Linked DNA regions of Homo sapiens: regions 1 and 3 are each linked to region 2. The links come from fine-mapping of genetic effects on plasma protein levels. A gene starts in region 2. Each other region holds a variant in brackets. All regions are shown on one strand. Distances are from middle to middle.

What was found. PIP is the posterior inclusion probability: the model's chance that the variant is causal. The UK Biobank Pharma Proteomics Project read protein levels with antibody pairs (Olink). The fine-mapping took linkage between variants from a reference panel, not from the people measured, so its PIPs are less certain.
Region 1: its variant is fine-mapped to the plasma level of the FABP3 protein (UK Biobank, PIP above 0.99).
Region 3: its variant is fine-mapped to the plasma level of the FABP3 protein (UK Biobank, PIP above 0.99).

Annotation. Positions count from the first base shown.
Region 1 is chr1:31,489,367-31,497,511 of GRCh38, reverse strand. No RefSeq gene overlaps it. Among named protein-coding and RNA genes, the nearest start is that of LINC01226, 25 kb to the left of the region's middle. The variant A/G (reference allele first, on the strand shown) is at 4,273.
Region 2 is chr1:31,369,502-31,377,659 of GRCh38, reverse strand. FABP3 (fatty acid binding protein 3) reads left to right here and starts at 4,584. Exons shown (of 4, transcript NM_004102.5): 1 at 4,584-4,718; 2 at 8,103-8,158. The coding sequence starts at 4,646. It overlaps LOC124903892 (a long non-coding RNA gene), which reads right to left and starts at 3,361. Exons shown (of 2, transcript XR_007065573.1): 1 at 3,273-3,361; 2 at 173-848. RefSeq lists silencers at 564-858, 4,104-4,398.
Region 3 is chr1:31,401,087-31,409,267 of GRCh38, reverse strand. No RefSeq gene overlaps it. Among named protein-coding and RNA genes, the nearest start is that of SERINC2, 8.0 kb to the left of the region's middle. The variant G/A (reference allele first, on the strand shown) is at 5,064.

The DNA.
Region 1 (8,145 bases), 120 kb before region 2:
AATCCAGCATATAAACAGAACCAAAGACAAAAACCACATGATTATCTCAATAGATGCAGAAAAGGCCTTTGACAAAATTCAACAGCCTTTCATGCTAAAAACTCTCAATAAATTAGGTATTGATGGGACATATCTCAAAATAATAAGAGCTATTTATGACAAACCCACAGCCAATATCATACTGAATGGGCAAAAACTGGAAGCACTCCCTTTGAAAACTGGCACAAGACAGGGACGCCCTCTCTCACCACTCTTATTCAACATAGTGTTGGAAGTTCTGGCCAGGGCAATCGGGCAGGAGGAAGAAATAAAGGGTATTCATTAGGAAAAGAGGGAGTCAAATTGTCCCTGTTTGCACATGACATGATTGTATATTTAGAAAACTCCATCGTCTCAGCCCAAAATCTCCTTAAGCTGATAAGCAACTTCAGCAAAGTCTCAGGATACAAAATCAATGTGCAAAAATCACAAGCATTCTTATACACCAATAACAGACAAACAGAGAGCCAAATCATGAGTGAACTCCCATTTACAATTGCTTCAAAGAGAATAAAATACCTTGGAATCCAACTTACAAGGGATGTGAAGGACCTCTTCAAGGAGAACTACAAACAACTGCTCAATGAAATAAAAGAGGATACAAACAAATGGAAGAACATTCCATGTTCATGGATAGGAAAAATCAATATCGTGAAAATGGCCATACTGCCCAAGGTAATTTATAGATTCAATGCCATCCCCATCAAGCTACCAATGACTTTCTTCACAGAATTGGAAAAAACTACTTTAAAGTTCACATGGAACCAAAAAAGAGCCTGCATTGCCAAGACAATCCTAAGCCAAAAGAACAAAGCTGGAGGCATCACGCTACCTGACTTCAAACTATACTACAAGGCTACAGTAACCAAAATAGCATGGTACTGGTACCAAAACAGAGATATAGACCAATGGAACAGAACAGAGTCCTCAGAAATAATACCACACATCTACAACCATCTGATCTTTGACAAACCTGACAAAAACAAGAAATGGGGAAAGGATTTCCTATTTAATAAATGGTGCTGGGAAAACTGGCTAGCCATATGTAGAAAGCTGAAACTGGATCCCTTCCTTACACCTTATACTAAAATTAATTCAAGATGGATTAAAGACTTAAATGTTAGACCTAAAACCATAAAAACCCTAGAAGAAAACCTAGGCAATACCATTCAGGACATAGGCATGGGCAAGGACTTCATGTCTAAAACACCAAAAGCAATGGCAACAAAAGCCAAAATTGACAAATGGGATCTAATTAAACTAAAGAGCTTCTACACAGCAAAAGAAACTACCATCAGAATGAACAGGCAACCTACAGAATGGGAGAAAATTTTTGCAATCTACTCGTCTGAAAAAGGGCTAATATCCAGAATCTACAAAGAACTCGAACAAATTTACAAGAAAAAAACAAACAACCCCATCAACAAGTGGGCAAAGGATATGAACAGATACTTCTCAAAAGAAGACATTTATGCAGGCAACAGACACATGAAAAAATGCTCATCATCACTGGCCATCAGAGAAATGCAAATCAAAACCACAATGAGATACCATCTCACACCAGTTAGAATGGTGATCATTAAAAAGTCAGGAAACAACAGGTGCTGGAGAGGATGTGGAGAAATAGGAACACTTTTACACTGTTGGGGGGACTGTAAACTAGTTCAACCATTGTAGAAGACAGTGTGGCAATTCCTCAAGGATCTAGAACTAGAAATATGGTTTGACCCAGCCATCCCATTACTGGGTATATACCCAAAGTATTATAAATCATGCTGCTATAAAGACACATGCACACGTATGTTTATTGTGGCACTATTCACAACAGCAAAGACTTGGAACCAACCTAAATGTCCATCAATGATAGACTGGATTAAGAAAATGTGGCACATATACACCATGGAATACTATGCAGCCATAAAAAAGGATGAGTTCATGTCCTTTGTAGGGACATGGATGAAGCTGGAAACCATCATTCTCAGCAAACTATTGCAAAGACGAAAAACCAAGCACCGCATGTTCTCACTCATAGGTGGGAATTGAACAATGAGAGCACTTGGACACAGGGTGGGGAACATCACACACCGGAGCCTGTTGTGTGGTGGGCGGAGTGGGGAGGGATAGCATTAGGAGATATACCTAATGTAAATGACGAGTTAATGGGTGCAGCACACCAACATGGCACATGTATGCATATGTAACAAACCTGCACGTTATGCACATGTACCCTAGAACTTAAAGTATAATAATAAAAAAATTAAATTAAAAAAACCAAAACACAACAAAACAAAAAACAGATTGCACAATCTCTGCATCCATCCAGGGGGGTCCAGGATCACCAGTTATTCTCTTATTAAAAAAGTTAAATATATATATAAAATATATAATATATACATGTATTATATATAATATATATAAAATATATTATATATACATGTATTATATATAATATATATAAAATATATTATATATACATGTATTATATATAATATATATAAAATATATATATTATATATAATATATATAAAATATATATATTATATATATTATATAATATATATAATATATATTATATATAATATATATAATATATATATAATATATATATTATATATAATATATATAATATATATAATATATATATTATATATAATATATATAATATATATATTATATATATATAATATATATATTATATATATATATATATTTTTTGAGACAGAGTCTCACTCAGTCTCCCAGGCTGGAGTGCAATGGCATGATCTCGGCTCACTGCAATCTCTGCCTCTTGAGTTCAAGCGATTCTCCTGTCTCAGCCTCCTGAGTACCTGGGATTACAGGGACCCGCCACCACATCCATCTAATTTTTTGTATTTTAGTAGAGACAGGGTTTCACCATGTTGCCCAGGCTGATCTCGAACTCCTGAGCTCAGACAATCCACCTGCCTTGGTCTCCCAAAGTGCTAGGATTCCAGGCCTCCCAAAGTGCTGGGATTTAAAAAATCAGCCAGGTGCAGTGGCACATGCCTGTAATCCCAGCACCTTGGGAGGCCGAGGAGGGCAGATCACTTGAGGCCAGGAGTTTGAGACCAACCTGGCCAACATGGCAAAATCCTGTCTCTACTAAAAATACAAAAAAATTAGCCAGGCGTGGTGGCGCACACCTGTAGTCCCAGCTACTTGAGGAGCTAAGGCAGGAGAATCGCTTGAACCCAGGGAACAGAGGTTGCAGTGAGCAGAGATCATGCCACTGCACTCCAGCCTGGGTGACAGAGCAAGACTCCATCTCAAAAAAAAAAAAAAAAAGAGAGAGAGAATTGACTAAAGTATCTTTAAAAGAATTACTTTCTAAGCTTGGATGTGACACAAGAGATCACACTTGTGAAAGATCATCAGGTTTGGTGGCACCTGATTTATAATTTGTGTATATTCATAAATATAAAACTCAGCTCTTCCTGGGAGTTAGGACACCTGGGGATTAACTAAAAGGATATTGTGGCCTGAATAAGCCACTCAGGTTTCAGTTCCCTTGACTATAAAACCTTAATAAGTTATTTAATGCAGAGATTGTGTTCTTCTTCTGAATCCCAGCTTCTAATAAAATTATGTCACCTTTCCTGATCCTCCATTTCCTCATCTGAAAAATGGAATTAATATGTTAGTGTTTGATACCAGCATTGTTTTGAGGATTAAATGAGATAATCTAAGTAAAGATCTTAGTTTAAACCGTGTTAATTGAAATCCCTGGGGTTAGAGGACTGTTCCTGGCCTCATCTGCCTGATACACATGTTAGCAGAAAGTTCTTAGCAAATGGCTCTGACAGCTCTATCTTTCTCAGAGGGCTGTGACCGGCTTGTGCAGAGCTCTGGTGGGTAAATAGTTTTCAGCTCATTCTGCCTGATTATATCCTCATTTCTTCTGGAACATCACTACAAACAAAGCAACAAGTTTGATCCTATGAACTAAGCATGGAGTTGGAATTCAAGGGTGACTAGCCAACAATGGGGGTTAGACCCTTTAGGCCCTGGGATGGCCATGTGAATAAAGTAAAAAATACTTCAGTTTTTCTTTAACTATGCTATTAAAGGTCTTCTTTATGTGCAATATCTGAAGCTTCACCTTAAGGGAGATATTTCACAAAAATAAGATGCCAATGTTATTTTGCCTTAAATGTATAAAAACTATCATCTGTTTTGTAGCAAGGATCAGAAGAAAAATAAACCAGGTCCAAC[A/G]TTTCTATGACTCCCATGTTGGATTAATGAATATGGAATCTTTATAAATTATGCATTGCATAATTTCACTATTTCTTATCATCCTCATAACAATCCCATGAAGCACTAATCATCATCTCCATTTTACAGATGAAAAATCAGAGGCTTACAGATGTTTAAAATGAAGAATTTCCATGGTTGTCAGTAAGTGGCAGAGCCAGGATTCAAACATGGGTCTGTCTGATTCCAGACCCCAGGCTTCTTCCACCAGTGCTTAACTCATTGAATAGTATTCACAACTGTTGGGAACAGGCCCCCCAAAATCTGGCCATAAACTGGCCCCAAAACTGGCCATGAACAAAATCTCTGCAGCACTGTGACTTGTTCATGATGGCCATGATGCCCACGCTGGAAGGTTGTGGGTTTACCAGAATGAGGGCAAGGAACACCTGGCCCACCCAGGGTGGAAAACTGCTTAAAGGCATTCTTAAACCACAAACAATTGCATGAGCGATCTGTGCCTTAAGGACATGCTCCTGCTGCAGATAACTAGCCCAACCCATCCCTTTATTTCGGCCCATTCCTTTGTTTCCCATAAGGGATACTTTTAGTTAATCTAATATCTATAGAAACAATGCTAATGACTGGCTTGCTGTTAATGAATACGTGGGTAAATCTCTGTTCGAGGCTCTCAGCTCTGAAGGCTGTGAGACCCCTGATTTCCCACTTCACACCTCTATATTTCTGTGTGTGTGTCTTTAATTCCTCTAGAGCCACTGGGTTAGGGTCTCCCCGACCGAACTGGTCTCAGCACACAACAACATTGAGAAGTGACTATTATTATGCCTGTTTAAGAGAGGCATCTGTAAGGTCAGAGAGGGGTAAGACCTCATCCAAATCAAATTACTACCAGAACTGACAAAAGTCATCTCAAAGGTGACCTTAGATCTGGGTCTGATGCAGGCCAAACCTAACAGTCAATCTCAAGAGAACAGATGGCATCTGTCCCTGCCAGTCTACCCTTCCTATCATATACCCACCACTTACTGCATCCCTCTCTGTTCCAAACCTCTGCAATCATGCGTCCTTCTTTCAGAAACCCTTTCCCTCCAGCCTAGCCAGCTGCTATTCTCTCCAGTTTTCAATTCAAATGGCACTATGTGCTCGTCATGAGTGCTGCCCATTAGCCGTTTCCAAGTCTCCTCTTGATCACGGGGTAAAATTATACTTCCCCACTGAGGCCATCAGTGTAAGTTAAGTTATACTGCAGTAACAAACTATCCCCAAATCATAGGAGCTTATAACTACAAAGACTTCTTTCTCACTCATGCAGTGTTCCCATGTGGATCAGTTTTGCTCTGTTCCATCATCTCCAGGACTCAGGCTAAGGGAGCAGTCAGTCCCTCATGGCACATTTCTACTTGAAGACCAGTAGCCAAAGCAAGTCATGTGGCTAGGCCAGATGTTAATGAGGAAAGAATTATAATCCTTCCACAGGTGGGGACAGCAAACATTCTGGCAATAATAAGGTCTATTATATTCCTCCCCCTTGAAATGGGATATGGCCACGTGGCTTGCTTTGGCTAATGAAATGTGAGTAAAGTGATGTTACCGCCAGTAGGAAGCTTTAAGAGCCAGTGTTAATTCACCATGCGCTCTGTCCCTTTGCAGAAGCAGTCAGCAGCCAGTGGTTACTCTATCAGCCCAGTTCCTAGGGTGGGGACAGCAGAGAGCAGGGCCCCCAGCTCTCTCCCTTCATAGGGATATAGTTTGAGGCAATCACAACCTTATTAGTTTAAGTACTGAAATGTGAGGGTTGTTTGTTACTGCAGCATCAGTTAACCCATTCAGCTCAATACATGCCTCCTTTGGAAAAGTTCACTTTACTTACAGGGAACAGTGGGAGGTGATCAGAACTAGACCCAGTAGCCAGGTGTGGTAGCACACACCTGTAATCCCAGCTACTCTGGAGGATGAGGCAGGAGAATCGCTTGAACCTGGGAGGTGGAGATTGCAGTGAGCCAAGATCACACCACCAAACTCCAGCCTGGGAAACAGAGCGAGACTCCATCTCAAAATAAATAAATAAAATAACTGGACCCAGGCATTGGTCAGTCAGGAAGCTTCCTGGAGCACTGAGTTTTAAGGAGGATTAAAATATCATAGGATGGGGAAAATCTTCAGGATATTATTATGGCCAAAATTTCTTGAGCAATACCCCACAAGCACAGGCAACCAAAGCAAAAATGGGCAAATGGGATAACAAGTTAAAAAGCTTCTGCACAGCAAAGGATACAATCAGCAAAGTGAAGAGACAACCCACAGAATGGGAAAAAATATTTGCAAACTATCCATCTGACAAGAGATTCATAACCAGAATATATAAGGATCTCAAACAACTCTATAGGAAAAAAAATCAAATAATCCAGTCAAAAAGAGCAAAAGATCTGAATAGACATTTCTCAGAAGATGACATACAAATGACAAACAGACATATGAAAAGGTGCTCAACGTCTTTAGTCATCAGAGAAATGCAAATCAAAACTACAATGAGATATCCTCTCACCCCAGTTAAAATGGCTTATATCCAAAAGACAGGCAATAACAAATGCTGACAAGGATGTAGAGAAAAGAGAACCCTGGTACACTGTTGGTGGGAATGTAAATTAGTGCAACTACTATGAAGAACAGTTTGGAGGTTCCTCAAAAAACTAAAAATCGAGCTATCACATGATCCAGCAATCCCACTGCAGGATATATACCCAAAAGAAAGGAAATCAGTATATGGTAGAGATATCTGCACTCCCATGTTTATTGCAGCATTGTTCACAACAGCCAAGATTTGGAAACAACCTAAGTGTCCATCAACAGATGAAAGGAAAAAGAAAATGTGGTACATATGCCCAATGGAGTACTATTCAGCTGTAAAAAAGAATGAGATCCTGTCATTTGCAACAACATAGATGGAACTGAAGATCATTATGTTAAGTGAAATAAGCTAGGCACAGAAAGACAAACTCCTCATGTTCTCACTTATTTGTGAGATCTAAACAAAAATCAAAAACAATTGAACTCACGGACATAGAGAGTAAAAGGATGGTTACCAGAGGCTGACAAGGGTAATGGAGGGCTGGTGGGGGAGGTGGGTATGGTTGATGAGTGTAAAAAAATAGTTAGACAAACAACCCCATCAAAAAGTGGGCAAAGGATATGAACAGACACTTCTCAAAAGAAGACATCTATTGGCCAAGAAACATGAAAAAAAGCTCAACATCATTGATCATTAGAGAAATGCAAATCAAAACCACAATGAGATACCATCTCACACCAGTCAGAATGGCAATTATTAAAAAGTCAAGAAACAACAGATGCTAGTGAGGCTGTGGAGAAATAGGAATGCTTGTACACTGTTGGTAGGAATGTAAGTTAGTTCAACCATTGCGGGAGATGAATGAGGAGCAAAGTCACGTCTTACATGGCAGCAGGCAAGAGAGCATGTGCAGGGGAACTCCCCTTTATGAAACCATCAGATCTCACGAGACTTATTTACTATCATGAGAACAGCATAGGAAAGACCTACCCCCATGATTCAATTACCTCCCACTGGATCCCTTCCATGACACATGGGAATTATGGGATCTACAATTCAAGATGACATTTGGGTGGGGACACAGCCAAACCATATCACAAAGGAAACATTGAAAAGTCACTTGGAGGCAGAGTGGGTCCCTTGAGGGCCTACTTGAGTGATGGCAATGCAGGCTTTCACTCTACTAAATGGGATGTGCAAGGGTGGGAAGGAGCTGGACTATTCTGAACAGGTGAGGAAGGGCTTCCAGGAACCCCAGAGAAGGCAGAGAACAAGAGCACCTAGTGTCACAAATAGTCTCCATG
Region 2 (8,158 bases):
AAGATGTCAGAGGCATTCTAACCAGAGTGACTCCATCTTGAATAGAGGCTGGATAAAATGAAGCTGAGACCTGGCTGGGATGCATTCCCACAAGGTGAAACATTCTTAGTCACAAAATGTTTACAGTTAAGAGTTAAGGGAACAGGTTAATAATTTACTAAACAGACATTTCTTTACTTCTCTAATAAACTTGCTTTTACTTTATTCTGCGGATTTGCCCCGAATTCTTTCTTGTGTGAGATGCAAGAACTCTCTCTTGGGGTCTGGATTGGGACCCCTTTCTGGTAACAAAGACCCCATGGACCAAGGGCATAAAAAGAAGGGATGTCTAAGACTTGCTGGTTCTATGGCAGGCAGAGGCAGAAAGAGCCCCACCATCATTCCCAGCAAATGGGAAAAGTTCCCAGTTGCAGATATTAGGGGTGGGATGGGGCGGGGGTAGTCAGCAACCATAGACTTAGACCCTGAAGAGGCAAAAAAGGAGGGCCATGTTCTTGGGTCAGCAGAGCTTCTACTCAGCTTCTTCAGCCTCTAGCTCTTTCCTGGTGCTAGTAGCACATTCTCTAGTGGAGGCATCCAGATGGCAGGGAGGGTCCAGGAAACAGCTGAACATGCTGAGCAGGCCTCCCTTGTCCCCGCTCCCCATGGCCCCATGGATCATCCGGTGCTGCAGCTCATCTCATTGGCTGGCTTCTGGTTACTCATCTCTCCTCTTCTCCATCTTCCCAGCCTGTGGTTGCCGTGGAAACATAGAACAGTGACCTCACCATAGGATGAGGGCTGGGGAGATGCTGTTCTTGGCAGGCGCTGGTCTTGCTGCCTGCCAGATGTTATATCCACATCTGGATCTGCCAAGGGCAAGACAGAGGAGTACAAAAAGGGACAGGGCTCACATTCTTCCCCAAATGTAGTCAGCATAACAGAGGAAGAGGATGCAGGTAGATCAGAGGGATGAGGAGAGAACTGTACATACTTAGAAGGGAGAAGGGTGTAAACCAGGAGGAAAGGAGATGGGGTGTGGCTTATGGGTTAACCTCGGTGACCCAGGTCTGAGCACCATGGCGAGGTGAGGGAAGGGCAGTGAGGGTAGTTGGTCTGAGGTTTGTCGAGTAGAGCTCCTCAAAGCCCCGTGCTGCTCAATTTGGACAGGCCCAAGAGAGGGAGCAAATGGATTTTCTGGCAGTGACCCCACCCCAACCCATTCTGAAAAACCTCTATAGCCCCTTTTTCAGTTGAAGCCCTTTCTAATCCTGTCCCAGAAATAATAAAACTGAGGATTAAAGAAGCAAAGCAATCTGCCTCAGGTAACTAACTCAGTAGGTAGTGGCAGAGCTCAGACTAGGTCTTAGGTGTCTGCACTATCCCTGGAGACAATAACAATAGCAGCAGGAGGAGCAGCAGCAGTGAACTTTCGTAAGTCAACCATGCTTAGCATTTAAATGTATTATCTCGGGCCAGGTGTCGTGGCTCACACCTGTAGTCTCAGCACTTTGGAAGCCGAGGCAAGCAGATTGCTTGAGGCCAGGAGTCCAACACCAGCCTGGGCAACACGGCAAAACCCTGTCTCTACCAAAAAAATGCACAAAAAATTAGCCAGGCGTGGTGCCATGCGCCTGTAGTCCTAACTACTCAGGAGGCTGAGGTGGGAGGATCCCTTGAGTCTGGGAGGTCAAGAATGCCATGAGCTGAGATCATGCCACTGCACTCCAGCCTGAGTGACAGAGTGAGACTCTCTCCAAATAAATAAATAGGCCAGGCGTGGTGGCTCATGCCTGTAATCCCAGCACTTTGGGAGGCCAAGGCAGGCGGATCACTTGAGGTCAGGAGTTCAAGGCCAGCCTGGCCAATATGGTGAAACCCCGTCTCTACTAAAAATATAAAAATTAGCCTGGCGCGGTGGCCCGCGCCTATAGTCCCAGCTACTTGGGAGGCTGAGGCAGGAGAATCACTTGAACCTGGGAGGCTGAGGCAGGAGAATCACTTGAACCTGGGAGGCAGAGGTTGCAGTGAGCTGAGATAACACCATTGCACTCCAGCCTGGGTGACAGAGTGCAAGACTCCATCTCCAAAAAAAAATCCCTTCATTTTAAAGATGAAACTGAAGCTGGCGTGGTGGCTCATGCCTGTAATCCCAGAACTTTAGGAGGTCCAGGTGGGCAGATCACCTGAGGTCAGGAGTTTAAGACCAGCCTGGCCAACATGGCGAAACCCCGTCTCTACTAAAAATACAAAAATTATCCAGATGTGGTGGCAGTTGCCTGTAATCCCAGCTACTTGGGAGGCTGAGGCAGGAGAATTGCTTGAACCCAGGAGGTGGAGGTTGCAGTGAGCCAAGATCACACCACTGCACTTCAGCCTGGGCAACGAGACTCCTTCTCAAAAAAAAAAAAAAAAAAATGGAGACTCAGAATGGCTTAAGTGAATTGCCCAAGGCCACACAGCTAGTACCCAACAAAATTCAGATCAGAACGCAGATCTGCCAGCAGCCATTAGCCCAGCCCCAGCTCTCCATCATTGCATTACAAGGGCCACATAAGGAGTCAGTTCTAGTTCCTGGCCACACAGTCCTTGAGAGGAGGCCCTATGTGTGAGGGCTGCGACCTTGAGTCAGAAATCATCTTTTCCCCCTCCTCCTCTCCTGGCACCTGTTCCAACAGTGAGATCACCAAGGCTCCATGCCCAGCCCTGAAGCCTGTCCCTATAGCTTTGGCAGAAATGAGCCTCTGAGTCTTCTGGCAACTGGACCGTCCAAAGGAATCAAGATCTTAGGGTGGGGAGAGGGCTCTTCCTCCCTGGCCTTGTTCTCAGAACAGTCCAGGGAAGGGAGGCAGGGTTTGCACATGGAGAAACAGAGTCCCAGGAAGGAGGGCCTGCCATACTCTACGCACGTGGCAGGCCTCTGGGCTCCTGTGTTGGCTCCTGCAGGCCCACCCTGGACAGGCTGCTGCTGGCTGAAATTCAGTTCGGCACTACTCCTTGGTGTGCAGGGCCTCCTGCCATCCCTCAGAAATTCATTTATACCTCACTTCCTTTGAGAAGTCTACATTGGGCCCTCAGGTCAGGACAGGACAGGACTCCCTTTAGAGGCACCACGCTAGTTTTATGTCTGGCTGCCCAGAGGTGAATGTGTGTCTTGTTCCCTGTTGTCTCTCTCCAAAGCAGGGCCTGGCACAAAGTAGGTGCTTTATTAACTGCTGAATTAATGAGTGAGCTCCTCAGAGCTTCAACTTGTTCACCTTTTTAAAAAGAGAAAATAATACAGTAACACCTACTTCATGGATTTTGCTTTAAAAGTCCAATGAGGCCAGGTGTGGTGGCGTGTGCCTATAGTCCCAGCTGCTGGGGAGGCTAAGGTAGGAGGATCCCCTGAGCCCCGGAGTTTGAGGCTGCAGTGAGCTATGATGGCGTCACAGTACTCCAGCCTGGGAGACACAGCGAGAGACTTTGTCTCTAAAAAATAATAATAAAATAAAAAGTTCAATGAAACAATACACCCAAAGCCCTCAGCATGCAATAAATAGCAAGACAAGGCAGGTCTTATTTTTACTGAAAGTGCTTAGTAAACTATACAGTGACAAACCACCGCACAACAGGCTCTCGAAAGGAGGCAGCAAATTACCCAAAAGTGCAGGCGGCTTGCTAGTGTGCACAGGCCAAAGAAAGGGCGGCAGGTGGGGAAGGCAGCCATGGGCCTTGAAGAGCTGACCGAATTGGCAGAATTTCTGCAGGAGGGGAGCTGGGAACGACCTGAGCTAAAGCTCGGAGCTGTGCGAAGAAACCGGAAAAGCCCAGAGCACTTGCAGGGGCGGGTGGGGAGCTAGATGGTGGGGTGGGGTGGGGACGGAGGAGGGCCAGCAGGAGACATTCCGCAGGGAGGGGCAAGCACGTGTGAGGCGGGCGGGGCGCGAAGGGTCAGGCTTTTGCTCAAAACAGGCAGAGGACAAGGTCAGCTCAGCCGCAGACCGAGCCGCTGGTGACTGTCTCCGCCACCAGGCAGTGAGAGTGAAGGGAGAGCGCGAGCTCTGAAGCCCGCTAGACTAAGCTTGCAATCTGAGCTCCATTCACCCCCTCCTATTTCTTGAGACCTTGTCAGTTCCCCTGTGAGCCTCGGACTCCTCACTTGTAAAACGAGGACAGATGCCCGTGCCAGAAGTCAACCAGAGCTTTCCCCGGCGTGGGCACCAGCCCAAGGGCGTTTTGCTTTTCTAGTCTCATCTCTGCTCTGACGCTAAGCTCAAAGAGGGACTGGGGGACGGGAAGATATCCACCATGGCATGCGCCCTAGCTCTCGGGCTGGTGTTGGCTGCTTCCTTCTCAGATTCCAGAGTGCCTAGAGGCCAGGAAAGGGAGAAGGTCCTACCAGCCTGGGGTAGGGACTCGGGGGCCAGGCACTGGCGCTGACGCAGGCTAGCAGGGCGCCACTGGCTGGTCCCCACCCACCTCGGTGGGTTGGGGGATGGGCGCACCAGCCCCTCCTGGGTGAGCCCTAGCCTGGGGCTTCCTATTTCGGGAGCCGGGGGCGTGGGCCACGTCTCCTCATGTGATGCGAGGGCTATTTAAAGCGGCAGCCCGGGCAGGGAGCCGCCGTCGGAGCCCTTGCACGCCTGCTCTCTTGTAGCTTCTCTCAGCCTAGCCCAGCATCACTATGGTGGACGCTTTCCTGGGCACCTGGAAGCTAGTGGACAGCAAGAATTTCGATGACTACATGAAGTCACTCGGTGAGCAAGCCGCGGGGCTCAGGATGTTGGCTTGGGGACTGGCTGGTGGCGTGCCTAGCCCCACGCAGCACTCCTGCCGCATCCCTCCTGGTTAAGACTGGGGAATAGGGGAGCGCGGAGATGGCAGCCTGGCCTAGAGCAGGTGGGGCCTGTTCAGAGGGGGCTTTGGTGGTCCAAATCTGGTTAGAGACCACGGTAGGGAGGTGGTGGAAGGAGGCAGCTGTGTGGGAGGCTCTTTCCAGGAAGAGGGATATGTGATTTGGAGGTAGGAGGAGGGTTTGGATAAAGAACACTGATCACAGGAAAGGGAGTGTAGCCAGGGGAGAAAAAGAACAGGGGCATGGGTAGTTTAGAAATTGGAGGAGACTGAACCCAGAAAGGGAATGGGGCAGCCAGGGAGTGTACAATGATGTAAACAAGTAGGAAATACCTAGGAGGAAAAAGATTAGTGGGGAAAAAACTGTGGATCAGTGAATCAGATATGAGAAGGACGTAAGACAGGAACCTGCAGTAAGCAGCAATCCCCATCTCTGCTTGGTTAGGGAAGAGAATTCTTGCTGGAGAATGCCCTTTCTCACCAGCCAGTCTGACCTTGTCCTGCAGTCTATGTATCCAGGCCTTCATCACTGTCTGTGAGCCTCGTGGTAGGGTGGGGCAAGAGGCCCATGATCAGCTGGGCCTTTCCTGCAACCCAAGGCTCACCTATCTGTGCGAGGGGTAGGCAGAGAAAGCCATTGGACTTCTGATGTGCAGTAGAGGGTCCCAAGGCAAGGTCAAGACCTGGGAGGGAGGATCACTGGTTTAGGAGGATGTGGAGAACTGCTGTGGTGTTGGGATGGAGAAGAATCAGGATTCAAAGAATCTCACAGGTGAGGAACTTGGAGATTCCCATACCATCTAGTTCAACAGGGAAACTGAAACCAGGAGAGTAGAAATGTATTATAACAATTCCACAGCAGAGCCAATATGAAAATCTAAGGTTTCTAGATCTGTAACCCAGAGCTCTTCCCACTACCCTACAGGCCCTGCGAGTGGGAAGAAAAGTAGAAACTGCTTAGCTAATGATTGACCTCAGCCCTTCTTCTACTGCTTTGGGCTTAGATGGAGAGGTCAAAGCTCTCAACGGCCTCTACCCTATCTTGGGCGCTATGCCCAGTAATTCTAGGCAGGCAGTCATTCTTAGAGGAGCAGCCCCCAGCCCCCACGAACACAGCCCAGCAGCTATTGGGAAGTTGGAATGCCCAGATTTAGTTCCTCCTTCCAAAGCTGGGCCAGAGCTGAGTCTTGAATTGAGCTGCAACAACTTTACCATTCTTGTTCCCTTATTCTGCCCCGAGTTGGGTCAGCGGGCTGGTCTCCCTGAAGTCCTGTTATCTTTCAGCAGCTTATGTTAAGGCAGCCAGCATTCTCATCGTAGGAATGGAAAGCCTGGGAAAATACCCTCCTCAGCTCTCAGTAAGTAGTGCTGGCTTCATTTCTAAGTAGAACCCAGATCTCCCTGAGTCTCCTAAATTCTGTCAGCTCAATATTCTTAGTTTCTCTTGGTTCAGACCCTCACTCATCCCGCAGTGGTTTCCTTTTCAAACACTCCATACCTCTGGGTAGATCCTAAGTGAACAGAGCTCCCAGTGCCGTGACAAGGTCCTGCTCTGTGCAAGGGAGTGTGATTGGCCTGACTCATCCTGATACCAAGGGGCAATGCCAAGTTCCTCACTGGCCAAGCAAGGGTGGGCTGACAGCATAACAGCAGAGGCAGCCCCTGCCCCTCCTGCTGTAGACCTAGGGCTCTCAAGGGGCAAAGAGGTCCCGTCTAGTACCAGTGACCACAGGCACAACTGCTGGCCTGGATTGAGTATGTGCTGGACAGAATCGCCCAGTGAAAATAGTCAACAGTTTTGGAGCCGAGGTTCAAATCTATGTCAGTAGTTTATTCTCTTTGAATTTCGACAAGACACTTCGCACTCTTCATTGTAAACTGGGGATAATCTACGCTTCGAGGCTGTTACAAGCATTAAGTAAAACAACCCATGTAGGGCATGTGCAGAGTACCTAGCTTCCAGCAAGCACTATGTAGCCAGGTACATTTGGAGACTTTACACACACCACCTCACTACACTGGGCTGCCTCCTGCCTCACCTTTGCCTTGGAAGACAGTTCAATGTTAAGCTGCTGGGGGGAGAGGGGGCAGTCATGATTAGTTCTTTGTTCTTTACTTGGTTGCAGGACACTTAGGACTTTGCCCAGTACCCAAGGAAGCCATGCTTGGGTCAGGAAGAGAGTCTCTGTAAAGCCTTAGACTGGGAGTCAGGAGACGGGTTTGAGTCTAACTCATTGTTGCTACCGCTTTAGGCTCCTCCTGAATCTGCACAATAGGACAAATACTTCCTTTGTACCTAACTCCTAGATCATAGATAACAGGCTTTGAAAATGATGGGTTGCCATGTATAAGGGACAAGAGCACTAACACTTCTTAGTTTCAGGGTAAAAACTTCCAAAGTTGGAAAACTCCTATGCCTAAGGCTTTGGAAGGGAAAGTCTATGTTTCTCTTCTTTCCTCAGCCTTATTCCTAAGGCTTTGAGAGCTTTTCAGGTGCCCTGGAAGGCAGCCTTATGCTCCAGCCTTGGGAGGTAGTATAGCTGAGCACTTAAGCAAGCTCTGGACTCAGACAATTCTGGGCTTCAATCTCAGATTTGTGACCCTGGGCTTTACCTCTGTTTTTGTATCTGTAACGTGGAAACAGTCTTCAGAAGAACAGGAAGAACTAAATGAGATAACATGTACAGTTCTTACTACACAAAAAGCTCATAGTACTTAATAGTAGCTTTTTTTTTTTTTTTGAGGTGGAATCTCACTCTGTTGGCTAGGCTGGAGTGCAGTGGCACAATCTCGACTCACTGCAACCTCCACCTCCTAGGTTCAAGCAATTCTCAGCCTCAGCCTCCTGAGTAGCTGGGATTACAGGCACATACCACCACATCTGGCTAATTTTTTGTATTTTTAGTAGAGACGGGTTTCACCATATTGGCCAGGCTGGTCTTAAACTCCTGGCCTCATGTGATCCGCCTGCCTTGGCCTCCCAAAGTGTGATTACAGGCGTGAGCCACCACACTTGGCCCAATAGTAGCTTATTCTAATCCCAGCTCTGCCACTGACTTGCTATGGCACTGCTGTTCCTTAAGTATCTCTCATCTAATGGGATCAGTTATCTGTGTTCACCAAACAGAACTAAGCGCAAGACTGAATTTTAAAATTCCCATGCAAAGGCTTTGAAAGATACAGTCCTCCACTTCCCCATACCCAGGCCTGAGAGTTATTCATTGAGTTTCTTGTACACTGCTTCTCTACCCCAGCTCATATACTCATAACCTTCCCCCTACCCTCAGGTGTGGGTTTTGCTACCAGGCAGGTGGCCAGCATGACCAAGCCTACCACAATCATC
Region 3 (8,181 bases), 32 kb before region 2:
AGTCATGGGGCCACATCTGGATCTCACATGTCAGCAGATGAGCCCACAGTGGTATTAGGTGATTTTGTGAAAGGACCCAGGTCCTGGAAGGGACTCTATCTGGAAAGTATGGAGACAGGCAGACACGATGCGTGTTCATATGTGTGCAGGCACACAGTGATGCAAGCTTGAGCATGCACACACACACAGGGTGTTCTGTGTGCATGGACGTAACTGTGTGGGGTGGAGGTACCCCTGTGGCTGCCCAGTGTATGTGCCTCTGTGCTGCTCTGGTGACTTTTTTCCAATCAACACTTAGCCACAGGGGGCCAGGAGCTGGGAATGCAGTGTGGATAGGGCAGACACAGTCCCAGCCTGCATGGAGTGGATGGTCTGTGGGATTTGCTTCCCATAACAGTAACACTCTGGAAGGAATCCGTTTCCTTTGTAGGAAGTGACTAGGGGTTGAGAGAGAAGATGGGTAAGAGTGGAAAAGGTAGGACATCTGAGGTAGGTAGCTCAAGGGAGCCTCTGGCACTTGCCAGAAATGTATGGAGGAGACAGCCAGGACCTGGCACCGGCTCCACGACAGTCACAGGTCTGAGGATTCCCAAAGGTCTCCAGATGCTTTCCTTACAGATGTCCAGGGTCTTCTGTGAGTGTATATGTGGGCAGTTTGTGTGTGTTGGGGAGGGGGGGGTGTTTAGGTATATGTGCACAGATGAGCGTGTGTGGTTATGTGAATATGTGCATGGAATGTGCATGTATAAATGTGGGGACATGGGTAAGTCATATATGGTGTGTACGCAGGTGGGGTTTACATGTAGAGGTGGGGGTATGCTTGTGTGTGTGGCAGGGCCTGTTACTGCAAAGGAGAGAAGAGAGTGCCATTTGGCCCAGGCCTCACATTCAGAAGTCTCAAAAATGCATCCAAAAATGAGATGGAATGAAGGGAGGGAGGGAGGGATGGATGGCTAGGTAGATGGATAGGCAGAGGGCTGTCTGTGCAGAGAGATGGACAGAGGGTTGGACAGAGGAATGGATATGTGATAAAGCAGATACTGCAAAATGTTCATTGTAGTCCCCAGGTGCTGAGTATGTGGGTGCTCACTGTACCATTCTTTCAACCCTTCTGGATGCTTGATACTTTTCATAATACAACGAGTACACAAAGTGGGCTGGATGTCTAGCCCCAGAGAATTATGGATGAGATGGGAAGAACAGAATGCTCTTCATGCCATTTGAAACTTACATCCCATCACTGGACCACACAGCAATGTGAAATCACATTTTTTATAATTCTTGTGACGATCTTGTGAGTCTCTCAGTTGCACTGCATTGGATGTGTGTGGGTGCATGTGTGTGTTAAAAAACATTAATTTGTTAAATAAAAACATACCACAGTTGTGAACATCCTATTTAGGACTTTCTTCATTTTTAAATTAGCAGGAGCCTTAAAAGACAGAAGTGGTCTGGCTCAGCCGGGCGCGGTGGCTCGCGCCTGTAATCCCAACACTTTGGGAGGCCAAGGCGGGCGGATCACCTGAGGTCGGGAGTTTGAGACCAGCCTGACCAACATGGAGAAACCCCACCTCTACTAAAAAATACAAAATTAGCCGGGTATGGTGGCGCATGCCTGTAATCCCAGCTACTTGGGAGGCCGAGGCAGGAGAATCGCTTGAACCCGGGAGGTGGAGGTTGCAGTGAGCTGAGATCAGACCATTGCACTCCAGCCTGGGCAACAAGAACGAAACTCCGTCTCAAAAAAAAAAAAAAGAAGTGGCCTGGCTCTTTCCGTCTGTGAGCCCCTACTATGCAGGGTGCGTGTATGGGTTTGCATGTATGTGCACGTGTCAGGGATGTGAGCACACGTGGGTGGGTCAGGCTGACACCCATGTGAGTGCCCACACAGAGAGCTCAGCCTCCTCCAAGCCCCGCTGAGGCCAGCACCACTCTGAGGTGAGGAGGATGTCTTAGGATCGAGGAAGGGCAGCCACCAGCCCCAGGGCAGCATAAGGGACCAGGAACTCTGTCACCTGAGGCTTGGACACGCTCAGGCCAAGCGGCGTCATCCGGCCAGCAGCGAGAGTGTGGGAGGCTGTTTCCTGGAGGAGGATGGGGCAAAGGCAGGATGTCCACAGCCCTCCTGGGCCCAGCGGCTCCTTTCTTCCTCCCCATACATTTATATCTCCTGTCGGGACCATTCATCCTCCCCTGCTCAGTGCCTGTGGGCCCAAGTGGTCAATACCCCATCGTTGGACAGATGGAGAAATGGAGGCCTGGAGAGAATGCAGCCACTCAGGCCACACAACAAGTCAGCCCAGAGCCAGCCTGAGATCCAGCCTGGGTTCTAATCTCTGCCCCTACTGCCTGCCAGCCCTGCATCTCCCTCCTTCAGTCATTTGTCCACCAGCCAAGGCCTGCAGGGGTCCTACAGAATGGGCTCCAGGCCCAGCAGACCCAGCAGGGGAGGCCCCAGAGTGCCCTCCTGCCTAGGGAGGTCACATACAAAATCCAGGAAGACAGGTGGGCACCAGAAACAGCAGGTGGCTGAGAGGCAGGGCCTGGCTCAGCCACCAACCCTGTTAGAATGACCCTAGACAGCTCTCTGCCCCTTTCTGGGCCTGTTTCTCTATCTGTAAAATAAATGGGTTGAGGCCAGGAGCAGTGGCTCTCACCTGAAATCCCAGCACTTTGGGAGGCCTAGGTAGGCAGATCGCTTGAGCTCAGGAGTTCGACACCAGCCTGGGCAACATGGCAAGACCCCCATCTCTACTAAAAATACAAATAGCCAGGCATGGTGGTGCACACCTGTGGTCTCGGCTACTCGGGAGGCTGAGGTGGGAGGATCACTTGAGCCTGGGGAGTAAAGGTTGCAGTGAGCCAAGATTGCACCACTGCACTCCAGCCTGGGCATACAGTGAGACCCTATCTCAAAAAAAAAAAAAATACATAAATTAAAATAAATAGGTTGAACTATTAACAGTGGCTTTCAAATAATGTTTTGAAGCAGAATCCCTAAGTAGCTACAAGAGGAGCTCTCCTGGCCCATGTGGGGAAGGCAGGTGGATCTTGGCCCCTCACCCACTCTCCACTAAGAAGCTGGCCAAAGAATGTCCCACCGAGTCACAGAAGCAGTGGACAAGAAACCAGCCTTCAGCACATAACCAGGGCCCAATTCCAGCTGGGCCATTTACCAACTGCATAGACCTAGGCAAGGCTCTCCAAGCCTCAGCTTGCTCATCTGTAAAATGGGGGCAACGATACCAACCTCCTACAGCTGTGTGACAATTAACTGAGATAATTCATGCCCAGTGTTTGGTATGCGGTGAACATATTAAAACTTGAAGCAACAGTGACTGTTACTACTAGTTAGCCCTCAGATGAGAACCGGCATGAACTTGCTGGCTTCACCATGAGTTGTATCTCTTGTGCCAGATCCCAAAGCCAGTGCATTTTGGCAGCTGCTATCCCAAATTCCTCAGCTCCACCTACCTCTGCAGCTGCTCCAGAACAGCTGGGCATGCAGGGGCTGCTGCAAGGCCAGGCCTGGGCCCTGGGGAGGGCAAGCGCAGGGCTCCCTGTAATCAGGCCAGGCCTCAGAGCAAGGCCCGTTTCATCTGGACAACCAAGTCCCTGGCAGGCCATCATTAACTCCCCCACCCTTGCTCAGCACCCAACCCTGACCCAGCTGCTGAAGCCTCAGAGAGAAGGCAGCAGGTGTTTAGCCAAAGCCTTTCATTCCTCGGATCCCTCCCCAGGGTCTCCCAGGACCTCTGGGCTCAGGGAAGGTTCTGGTGACATAAGCAGGAAGGAAAGTCTTTCTGAAGCCAGGGCCTCCACTCACCCTACAGGCAGCAGTCCACACTGAGGAACAACGGAGACCTGGCATTGAGACTCCTACAACCTCAAAGTTGAAGAAAGCTCTAAAGCCATCTCATGTATATATATACAATACAATACCATTCAGCCTTAAAAAGACAAGAAATTCTGACACATGCTGCAACATGGCTGAACTTTGAGGATGTTATGCTAAGTAAATAAGCCAGACACAAAAGGACAAAAACTGTATGATTTCACTTACACAAGGTACCCAGAGTACTCTAATTTGTAGAGACAGAAAGTACAATGGTAGTTGCCAGGGGCTGGGAAGAGAGCAGAATGGAGAGTTATTAAAAAACACAAGATGGGCCGGGTACAGTGGCTCATGCCTGTAATCCCAGCTACTCAGGAGGCTGAGGCAGGAGAATTGCTTGAACCCGAGAGGCAGAGGTTGCAGTGAATTGAGATCTCGCCATTGCACTCCAGCCTGGGCAACAAGAGTGAAACTCCGTCTCAACAACAACAAAAAAAGATGAAAGACAAGTGTTGGCTGGGTGCAGTGGCTCATGCCTGTAACCCCAGCACTTTGGGAGGCTGAGGCAAGAGGACTGCTTGAGCCCAGGAGTTCAAGACCAGCCTGGACAACATGGCGAGGCCTCCATTTCTACAAAACATTTAAATCTTTTTTTTTTTTTTTTTTTTTTGAGATGGAGTTTCGCTCTTGTCGCCCAGGCTGGAGTGCAATGGCACGATCGCGGCTCACTGCAACCTCCACCTCCCAGGTTCAAGCGATTCTCCTGCCTCAGCTTCCTGAGTAGCTGGGATTACAAGCACCCGCCATCATGCCCGGTCAATTTTTGTATTTTTAGTAGAGACAGGGTTTCACCATGTTGGCCAGGCTGGTCTCGAACTCCTGACCTGAGGTGATCTGCCCGCCTCAGCCTCCCAAAATGCTGGGATTACAGGCATGAGCGACCACACCCAGCCTCATAAAAAGTAATTTTTTTACTTTTTGTAAGTGTTTATACTTTTTACAAGTATTGGTGAGGATGTAGAGAAAAGAGAACACTTGTACACTTCTGGTGGGAATGTAAACTGGTACAACCATTATGGAAAACAATATGGAGGTTCCTGAAAAACTAAAAATAGAACTACCACACGATCCAGCAATCCCACTTTTGGTTATATATCCAAAAGAAATGAAATCAGTAAGTCAGAGAGATATCTACACTCCCATGTTCACTGCAGTATTATTCACAATA[G/A]CCAAGATATGGAAACAACCTAACTGTCCATCACGGAATGAATGGATAAAGAAATTGTGATGGCCAGGCACAGTGGCTTACGCCTGTAATCCCAGCACTCTGGGAGGCCAAGGCAGGTGGATCACCTCAGATCAGGAGTTCGAGACCAGCCTGGCCAACGTGGTGAAACGCTCTCTCTACTAAAAACACAAAAATTAGCCAGGCATGGCGGCGGGTGTCTGTAATCCCAGCTACTTGGGAGGCTGAGACAGAAGGACTGCTTTAATCTGGGAAGTGGAGGTTGCAGTGAGCCAAGACTGCACCATTGCACTCTAGCCTGGGGAACAAGAGCAAAACTCTATCTCAAACAAACAACAACACAAAAAAATTGTGATATATACACAATAGAATACTATACAGCCTTTAAAAAGAAGGACATCCTGTCATTTGCAACAACGTAGATGAACCTAGAGAACATTACGTTAACTGAAGTAAGCCAGGCACAGAAAGATTAACACTGCATGATCTCACTTATGTGAAATTTTAAGTCGGACTCATAGAAGCAGAGAGCACAACAGTGGTTAACAGGGGCTGGGGCCAGGCCCAGGAGAAGGGATTGAGGAGATGTTGGTCAACGGATACAAAATTTCAGTTAGACAGGAGGAATAAATTCAAGAGATTTATTGTACAACACAGTCACTATAGTTATTAACAATGTATTGTATACTTCAAAATCGCTAAGTAAATTTTAACTGTTCTCATTGCAAAAAAATTAGTATGTGAGGTAATGCATACTTAGCCCAATTAGCCATTCCACAATGTATACATATTTATTTATTTATTTATTTTTTATTTTTTGACAGGGTCTTACTCTGTCACCCAGGCTAGAGTGCAGTGGTGTGATCCCAGCTCACTTCAACCTCCACCTCCCGGGCTCAAGCCATCCTCCCACCTCAGCCTCCCGAGTAGCTGGGACTACAGGTGTGCAACACCACATCCAGATAATTTTTGTATTTTTTGTAGACAGAGGGTCGCATCATGTTGCCCATGCTGGTCTCGAACTCCTGGGCTTATGTGATCTGCCCACCTCAGCCTCACAAAGTGCTGGGATTACAGGCATGCACCGCCGTGCCTGGCCAATATATACATATTTCAAAACATTATATTGCACACTATAAATGTATAAATTTGTATTTGTCAATTAAATTTTTTAAGTTCTCTGATTTGAATAATAGAGAGATAAACACACACATCTAGTGCCTTCTCTCAGTTAACAGATGGAGAAACTGAGGCCAAGACCGAAGAAGGGACTTACCAGAGTACACACAATGGGTGTGGGTTGAGAGGCATTCTCTGGCTTCCTGCTTCTTTCTAAACAAGCCCTCACCCCCACTCCCGAGTCTGCCCTACTGCTGGAACAGCCCCCTAACTACAAGCTTCCAGCTGGTTCTTCAGCACATCCGGAATTTCATCAGTCTTTAAAAAAAATAACTTTGCTCCTTTACTCTGGGTTTCATTCCCTCCAATTATAAAATCCTACCTGTCCCACGATAGCAGGGATCTTATCTGCCTGGTTCACCACAGGATCTCAACTCCCAGAGTTACATCTGGCAGGGCATCGCAGAGGCTGAATAAAAAATGAAAAATGAATTTTAGGCCAGGTGCGGTGGCTCATGCCTGTAATCCCAGCAGTTTGGGAGGCTGAGGTGGGTGAATCACTTGAGGTCAGGAGTTCCAGACCAGCCTGGCCAACATGGTGAAACCCTGCCTCTACTAAAAATGGAAAAATTAGCCGGGCATGGTGGCGCACACCTATAATCCCAGCTCCTTGGGAAGCTGAGGTGAGAGAATCACTTGAACCCAGGAGGCGGAGGTTGCAGTGATCTGAGATCATGCCATTGCACTCCAGCCTGGGCAACAAAGCGAGACTGCATCTCAAAAAAAAAAAAAAAAAAAAAAAAGAAGAATTTAAAAATTCAAAAGAATTCACCAATGGATTCCCACCTTCGACATACTTTATGTCCCATTCTCATCTATTCTAATGCTTAAACGCTTTTTTAAAATTAATTAAAAAAAATTTTTGAGACAGAATCTTGCTCTGTCACCCAGGCCAGAGTACAGTGATGTGATCTAGGCTCACTGCAACCTCCGCCTCCCGGGGTTCAAGCGATTCTCCTGCCTCAGCCGCCTGAGTAGCTGGGATTACAGGCATGCACCACCACCTCAAGCTACTTTTTGTATTTTTAGTAGAGACAGGGGTTTCACCATGTTGGAAAGGCTGGTGTTGAACTCCTGACCTCAAGTGATCCACCCACCTCGGCCTCCTAACATGCCGGGATTACAGGTGAGAGCCACCATGGCTGACCACTTAAACACTGTTAAACAATCTGGACTCACACTACCTACATAATTTTGTGTCCCATCTTTTTCACATAACATTCCATCATGAGCATTTTTCCTTGCCATTAAAATATTTTCTTAACAGCACTGAGATGGCCCCATACTCGCTGTCAGTGGATGTCCTCCACCCAGAAGCCATCTTCTCAGCCAGACTTCTGGGACCACTCAGGATGGGGCAAAAGAGAACAATGTATTGCTGGCTTCCAGCACACAGTCCCCCTCAACAAACATCTACAGAACATCTGAGGTGCCAGGCACAATTCTAGGCCCTGGGAGGACAGCAGTGAATCAAACAGACAAAAGCCCTTGCTTTCATAGAGCTTGCACTCTAATGGGGAGTAAATGAATGAATGAACCAATGAAACTACTTCCTGTGGTTGGACATTGAAGTCAGTGCTTCTTAAACGTTCCCTCTGCAGTAGCACTAGTGAACTGCAAGCAGAAAATCCCTTTAAAGTCTTATATGTTATTATTAATATGAATGTAAAGTCTGCATTCTATGTGGGCTGGCCAACTCATCCTGCTTTGCCTGGGACCTTTCTGGTTTGCGTACTGAAAGTCTCATGTCCTGGAAAAACTTTTTTTTTGAAACAAAGTTTCATTCTTGTTGCGCAGCCTGGGAGGCAGTACCTGCAGTGAGCCGAGATCGCGCCATTGCACTCCAGCCTGGGCTCACTGCAACCTCTGCCTCCCAGGTTCAGGTGATTCTCCTGCCTCAGCCTCCTGAGTAGCTGGGACT